Linked DNA regions of Homo sapiens. The protein of the gene in region 2 purifies or fractionates together with the protein of the main gene of each other region. This does not show direct contact. Each region holds a gene or a part of one and is shown on either strand. Other genes may lie near its edges.

Region 1 (4,151 bases), on a different chromosome or scaffold from region 2:
ACCGCGCCTGGCCGACCTGGCTAATTTTTAAATATTTTTGTGTAAAGATAGGGTCTCACTATGTTGCCCAGGCTAGTCTTGAACTCCAGGACTCAGGTGACTCTCCCATCTTGGGTCCATTAAGCTTTTAACTACAAACTACACTGAAATATGAAAGTTATTCAGAATGAAATGAATAAGAATGCAAAATTATAATCATACCGTAAGAATACTTTCTGAGTAATCCCAGCACTTTGGGAGGCCGAGACGGGTGAGTCACCTGAGGTCGGGAGTTCCAGACCAGCCTGGCCAACATGGAGAAACCCCATCTCTACTGAAAATAACAACAACAAAAAAAATTAGCTGGGCGTTGTGGAGGGCACCAGTAATCCCAGCGACTCAGGAGGCTGAGGCAGGAGAATCGCTTGAACCCAGGAGGCACAGGTTGCAGTGAGCCGAGATTGAGCCATTGCACTCCAGCCTGGGGGACGGGAGTGAAACTCCGTATCAAAAAAAAAAAAAAATGAATACTTTCTGAAAGTATTTATTCATACAAATAAAGACTTGACCCGTGAGGTAGGAACACAAATGGGCCACGGAATCACTCATTCCACAGAATATACCGAGTGCCCTTGAAGTGCTGGGCACTGCTCCAGGATTGGGGGCGTATTGGTGAAAGAGAAGCAAGCTGCCTGCTCAGATGGCAGGGAATGGGGGAAAACAGGGAGACAGTTTCCTGTTTGAGATGTTGGGAGATGCTTCGAGTAGTATATTTACTGGAAATAGACATTCAACTTGGATGTCCCTTTTTGGAAATGTGCCTGCGTCCAGGGCTGGGTTGGGGCCCCAATGAACTTTGGCTCTGACACAGCTGTTGCCACACTCAGTGGAACTGAATCTATGTTTGTCTTCCCCGGCATCCTTCACCCCAACTCTCCCCGCCACAACATACATCCCATGCCAGCCTGGGGACCCTCAAAGGTGGCTTCATCATTAGGTTTGTGGCTGGGTCCCACTGAAGTAAGTCTTGGCACTCAGAGGGATAGGAATTGAATGAAGACATGAGATTCCTCTGCGGGAGGCCTCTCTAGGAAATCTGTGGACTCACACGTTTACTAATGTTGCTGCAGCCCCGCACCCACCTTGGCCTTGGGCAGCCATACTCTAGGGCTTTTGTAACCTCTCCATGTGAGGAACTCAAATTAGACCTGGGTTTGGAGGCGGTGCTCCGAGCTGGCCTTTGGGGGAGGTTTTGTGCGAGGCATTTCCCAAGTGCTGGCAGGATTGTGTCACAGACACAGAGTAAACTTTTGCTGGGCTCCAAGTGACCGCCCATAGTTTATTATAAAGGTGACTGCACCCTGCAGCCACCAGCACTGCCTGGCTCCACGTGCCTCCTGGTCTCAGTATGGCGCTGTCCTGGGTTCTTACAGTCCTGAGCCTCCTACCTCTGCTGGAAGCCCAGATCCCATTGTGTGCCAACCTAGTACCGGTGCCCATCACCAACGCCACCCTGGACCGGGTGAGTGCCTGGGCTAGCCCTGTCCTGAGCACATGGGCAGCTGCCTCCCTTCTCTGGGCTTCCCTTTCCCTGCTGGCTGTGGTCGGACCCCCACTCCCGGCTCTGCCTTTTTCTCTTCTGGGTCCCCAGGGTGAAATTCTCACCAGCCCAGGGGACTCTGGAGGCACCCCCTGCCTCCAAACACAGAAGCCTCACTGCAGAGTCCTTCACGGAGGACGGTTCTGTGCTGGGCCTGGAGGGGCTGCCTGGGGGGCAATGACTGATCCTCAGGGTGAGCTCCTGCATGCGCACTGCCCACCAGGGGCCTCATCTCCCCATCTGCAAAATCAGGGAGAGATCTGCCTGAGTCTCCTCCCAGCTGACAGTCAAAGATTCAGCATCAAGCCCCCATCACCAGCTCCCACCTTCTCCCCAGATCACTGGCAAGTGGTTTTATATCGCATCGGCCTTTCGAAACGAGGAGTACAATAAGTCGGTTCAGGAGATCCAAGCAACCTTCTTTTACTTCACCCCCAACAAGACAGAGGACACGATCTTTCTCAGAGAGTACCAGACCCGGTGAGAGCCCCCATTCCAATGCACCCCCATCTCAGCTTCTGGCCAGAAGACCTGAGCAAGTCCCTCCTTCTTCCTGGCCTTGGCCTTCCCATGGGTGGAACCGGGAGGGCTGGCTTTAATCTCCACCAGACTCTTGCCCCAGGACTGTGATGGGCGATTGGCCACTTCTCAATAATCTTCCTGTTTTCCTTCCGCCTTCTGTTTGGCTTTAGACAGGACCAGTGCATCTATAACACCACCTACCTGAATGTCCAGCGGGAAAATGGGACCATCTCCAGATACGGTGAGGGCCAGCCCTCAGGCAGGAGGGTTCACTGTGGGAACAGGGCAGGCCAGCATAAGGTGGGGGCTGGATGTAGAGCCCTGGAGGCTTTGGGCACAGAGAAATAACCACTAACATTTTTGAGCTCTAACGATGTGCTCAGAAACAACTCTAAGAGGACACTGAGAGAATTAGAGGAGGAAAAAGAAGAACAGAGACCTCAAATAGTTTCCCCAAGGTCACACAGCTTATAATTAGAACTAGAATTGGAACTCCAGGCTGGCTTCAGATCTGCCTCTCTCTCATGCCCTCTTTAAGATCCTTTGCAAACCAATGGTAGAAGCCTGTATGTTGGAGAGGTGGTACCTTCAACTATGTCCCCCATCACCGCAGAGGTGGCACATGGCAGGGAGCTGATGGAGCTGAACTGACACCATTTAGCATCCCGAGCCTCCTCTCTGGGCCTCATTTTCCTCATCTGTAAAACGGAGAAAGGCCCTGACAGCCACGGTCTGTGTGAGGCTCCTGAGATCTCATGTACAGAAAGTGCTTGGCGTGGAGCTGGGCATGCAGCAGGGGCTGGGCACACGGTGGCCCAAAGGAGCCCTGGGCCTTCACTGATGGGCTGTGTGGCCACTGACACACCTAGGCCTCCTCACCTGTAAGACAGACACCATTGTGCCATCCCATGTTCTCACCCAGAGGCTCCTTTTCTCTTCCAGTGGGAGGCCAAGAGCATTTCGCTCACTTGCTGATCCTCAGGGACACCAAGACCTACATGCTTGCTTTTGACGTGAACGATGAGAAGAACTGGGGGCTGTCTGTCTATGGTAGGCATGCTTAGCAGCCCCAAACTCATGCCCCTCTCAGGCCTCACCCCCCATTCACCCACCCCTGGGCTGGCCCCTAGAACCCCAGCCCTCCCTGGCCTCCCGCCGGGCCCCACCATGTCCCCAGTCAGTCTCCTTGCTCCCCCTGCAGCTGACAAGCCAGAGACGACCAAGGAGCAACTGGGAGAGTTCTACGAAGCTCTCGACTGCTTGCGCATTCCCAAGTCAGATGTCGTGTACACCGATTGGAAAAAGGTAAACGCAAGGGATTGGACAGTGCCCACCTTGTCCATGGCCCAACTTGGGCAGCCCCAGAGGCCCAGAGCAGGAGAGCTGCCAGGCAAGGCTGCACAGCTAGGCAGATCTTCTGCTTTTAGGCACCTGCCTCACTGTAGGGACAGCTGAGCTCTACAGAGGCCCAGGGGTGGTGGATGAGAGCCCAGGAGGGAGAAGTCCCTGTGAAACCAGGGAGGACCTGAAAGCTAACAGGAGGGAACAGCGTGAGCCACGGGGTTGGGGGATTGGCAATTGGAGGGGACGTAATGCGGGGAGTTACCACCTACAGACGCGTCCCAAACCCCAGGCTTTCACCCCACCTCCACTCCCCACTCATTTTTAATACCCGTGCAGTGGGGAATTGATACTGTGGTTTTCAATGTCACCCACACTGCAGCACGGCCACAGTCACCATCCCGATTTTTGCTACAAATGAAAATTACTTTATAATGAGCTCCTTAACACTTTTCTTTAAACCTGTGTTTGGAAGACTTGCGTTGGTGTGGCCCTGTGCCCAATACCTGTGAAATCACAGCACCGATGAGCTGGTTCCAATTTTTAAAATATATACATGCAGTACTTCCATGACTATTCAAAGAAAAACAATTCCTTCCATTTGCCATCTGAGATGACCACCAGTGGTGTGAACTACCTCCTGCCCCCATCTGCAGTCCCAGGATCCTGGGACAGGGCTTATGAACACAACCACTGTAGTCAGCTCACC
Region 2 (3,500 bases):
CTTAACTTTTATTTTATAACATTTACTGTACAGCGATTGCAGCATTTCCCCCAAATAATTTTACTATATTGTCATTTATGTCCATCTTTGGAAGCTTTCTTTCTCTACCTCCCCTCTTTCAACCCTCACCTCCCATCCCAGCATTAGATGGCAGAGAGGATAAAATAAGCTTTTGCCTAATAATACCTAGAAGAGAAAAATACTCCCAAAGTGCTGACATTTCAGCTAGGAAAACAAGAAGACAAAAGACACACTTGGATTTAATAGGATAGATTTACAGTAGCTAAGATAAAAAAGGATATTCAGATTAAGGAGATAGCAGGGCATAACCTACCCAGAAAGTTGCTGATTGGCAATGGAAGAGTAAGTACAAACAGCTCCTTATCCTTACTGCTTGGGAAAATGAGTTCGTGTGTGGGCTAGTGGAGGAAGACAGAGGAGCAGTGGGGGAAACTGGCCAGGAGTGAATCTGTAGGAGAAGATAATGAGCAAAGGAATGCTGGTCATTCTCTCAGGTTGGTGTTATGGAGGGGCTGTTGAAAGGTGAGGAGGAGTGAAAGCAAGGAACTAAGGAAAGGAACGGATAACCTACTGGCCTCACCTACTCATAGTCTTGGTTGCATATGATACGACGTGACTCAGAGCAACAAACAATTCTCCAGTCTTCTATAAAAGCAGGAAAACAACCTTTGCCCACCACTTTTATTTTGAGATGAAAATTAAAATAATGAACAAAATTAACAAATTAAAGTTAAAGCACCATTTACAAAGTACATTATACAAAGTAATAAGATAACTGACAATCACATTTGGTATGTATCTGGGTTGGAATTCAAAGAAGGAATTTAAGAATTACTTTTTAAAGAAATTTATCAGAGAAGCACAATTATGAAGGGAAAAAATATATTATTTTGTTTTTAGATAATAAATCATCATTGATCAAGATGTCTTCAGCACCTGAGCCTCCAACATTCAAAAAGGAACCACCCAAAGAGAAAGAGTTTCAAAGCCCAGGGCTCAGAGGGGTGCGCACAACAACCTTATTTCGTGCTGTGAATCCAGAGCTCTTCATTAAACCTGTAAGAAATACATCCAGGATAAGACTTTGTGTTTAATCCAACCAGACTGTCAGAAAGTTCTAATTTTCTTGTATTTGATTTTATCATGGAAATTTTATGTTGACAAGTAAGACCTCTCTGTGAATAAAAGCAGGTGGAAGGACGATTGTAAATGCTGTTTCACATATAAATACACATATAAAAGTAAATATTTTAAGGGCATTTGAGAGTTATAATGAAAAATGGTTGCCCTTTATTGGATTGGCTTCTCAAACTATCTAAAGTACTATTTTAATAGTTGCATTAATTTGAAGACAACTTTTGTTGTTTGATCAGGTACTATTAGGTAAATAAGACCTTCCATTTAAGCAAGGAAACCAAAATGAAAATCTGACCATTCTTAACATACTGCAATTCTACCCTGTAGGTAATATTTTTATCTAAGCAATATTACAGATACTTTGTGAAAAATTCCAAAACATTTGATTTGATGATATTCATTTATTTATTAGAGGTTCTGTCACCTAGGCTGTAGTGCAGTGGTACAGTCAGCTCACTGCAGCTTCAAACCCCTGGGCTCAAGGGATCCTTGTACCTCAGCCTCCTGAGTGGCTGGGACTACAGGTGCACGCCTTTATGCCTGGCTCATTTTTAAAATTTTTTGTAGAGATGGTGTGTCAGTATATTGCCCAAACTGGTTTTGAACTCCTGGCCTTAAGCGATTCTCCCACCTCAGCCTCCCAAATTGTTGTGATTACAGGCATGAGCCACCACGCCTGGCTGAGTTTATTTTTAAATAAATGTAGATTCTATTTTAAAATAAATGTAAAATCAAATTAAAATAAAATATGATAAATATTTAAGTGTGTTGAATCTGATTAGAATTTTAGTAACATAGTTATCAATGTAAACTTTTAAAGTTAAATAGATCAACTTAATCAGATCATTAAATCAAGGTAAAATATTTTAAAAGCTTTGAACTAATGTGTTCTTTTAATTGCTAAAAGCATTTCAAGAATTGTAAATTTAAACTGCTCTGAGTCTGTGTCCTTTCTTAGGTGTTCATCTAAGTGAAAAAGTTTGACCCTTATTTTGAAATAGAAGTGTCACCTAAAGGAAGAAACTGAGGCAAATTAATATAGGTAGGGAGTTTATTTGGGCCAAGGTTGAGGACTGCAGCCTGGGAAACACTTCAGAGTAACCTTGGGAAGCACTCTGGAGAGCAAAAGAGAGGCTGGAGTTTTTAAGAAAAAAGATGAATCAGGAGAGGGGGCAAGTACAAAAGTTGCTTTTCAGTAATTTTCATTGGTTTGCAGAAATGACATTGATTAGTAATTATACATTGTTGAACTACAGAGTATGAGTTATAATGTCTAGTGGAGGGCATTGTAAGGTTAATATATAGCTATTGGTTGTGTCAGTCCAGAGCCCACATAACAAGGGCTTCAAAATTATTACTTAGCTCAAGACATGACTACTGTCTCATTCCAATGCCTCTCTGGGCCTGATAATTTAAAGGGGGCTCACATTCCACAGTTAAAGAGTTTCTTTTATTTCTCAGTAGTGGTACAGCAGGTATGGTGACAGAAGCAGAAACTGTTATTTATATCACTACTGTGCATTTACATTGACCTAAGAAAGACCAACTCGTTGAGTGTGAACATGCAAAGAAAAGGGTCTGAGGTACAGTTTCAGGAGTAACAAAGTTAATAGACAAAATACTTTTCTGGAGTTGTGAACATCTTTCCTGTATTTAAAAGCTTTTTTTTTTTTTTTTTTTTGACTGGGCATCATGACTCATGTCTGCAATCCCAGTACTTTGGGAGGCTGAGGTAGAGGGATCTCTTGAGGCCAGGAGTTCAACATACTGAGACTCTATCTCTACAAAAAAATTTAAAATTAGTCTGGCCACAGTGGCTCACACCAAGGTGGGCGGATCACTTGAAGTCAGGAGTTTGAAACCAGCTGGCCAACATGGTGAAACCCTGTATTTATTAAAAATACAAAAAAATTAGCCAGGCATGGTGTGCACAACTGTAGTCCCAGCTTGGGAGGCTGAGGCAGGAAAATCGCTTGAGCCCAGGAGTTTGAGACTGCAGTGAGCTATGATTGCACCACTGCACTCCAGCCTGGGCAACAGAATGAAATCCTGTCTCTTAACAACAACAACAAAACACAGCGTGTGTGTGTGTGTGTGTGTGTGTGTGTGTGTGTGTGTGTGTGTGTGAAATCCTGTCTCTTAACCTCTTAACAACAACAAAACACAGCGTGTGTGTGTGTGTGTGTGTGTTTGTGTGTGTGTGTGTGTGTGTGTGTGTTTTAACCTGAAAGCATCACTTTGCCTCTTAGGGTCTTGGATTGTCCAAGAGTAAATCAAGGTTAACAGCATAATAGCTGTTCCCATCACTAAATTTCTTGAGGTAATGGAGTAGTTTCCCAGAG

The links.
Region 1: the proteins of SMIM8 (region 2) and ORM1 purify together in Homo sapiens (affinity purification with mass spectrometry; one large-scale study listed by BioGRID and IntAct). This does not show direct contact.

Annotation. Positions count from the first base shown.
Region 1 is NC_000009.12:114,321,747-114,325,897, forward strand, and holds the start of ORM1 (alpha-1-acid glycoprotein 1 precursor), read left to right. Parts: upstream 1-1,351; 5' UTR 1,352-1,387; coding exon 1,388-1,501; intron 1,502-1,916; coding exon 1,917-2,059; intron 2,060-2,271; coding exon 2,272-2,342; intron 2,343-3,043; coding exon 3,044-3,151; intron 3,152-3,302; coding exon 3,303-3,406; intron 3,407-4,151. UniProt on the Homo sapiens protein: Functions as a transport protein in the blood stream. Binds various ligands in the interior of its beta-barrel domain. Also binds synthetic drugs and influences their distribution and availability in the body.
Region 2 is NC_000006.12:87,336,088-87,339,587, forward strand, and holds part of SMIM8 (small integral membrane protein 8), read left to right. Parts: intron 1-921; 5' UTR 922-944; coding exon 945-1,079; intron 1,080-3,500.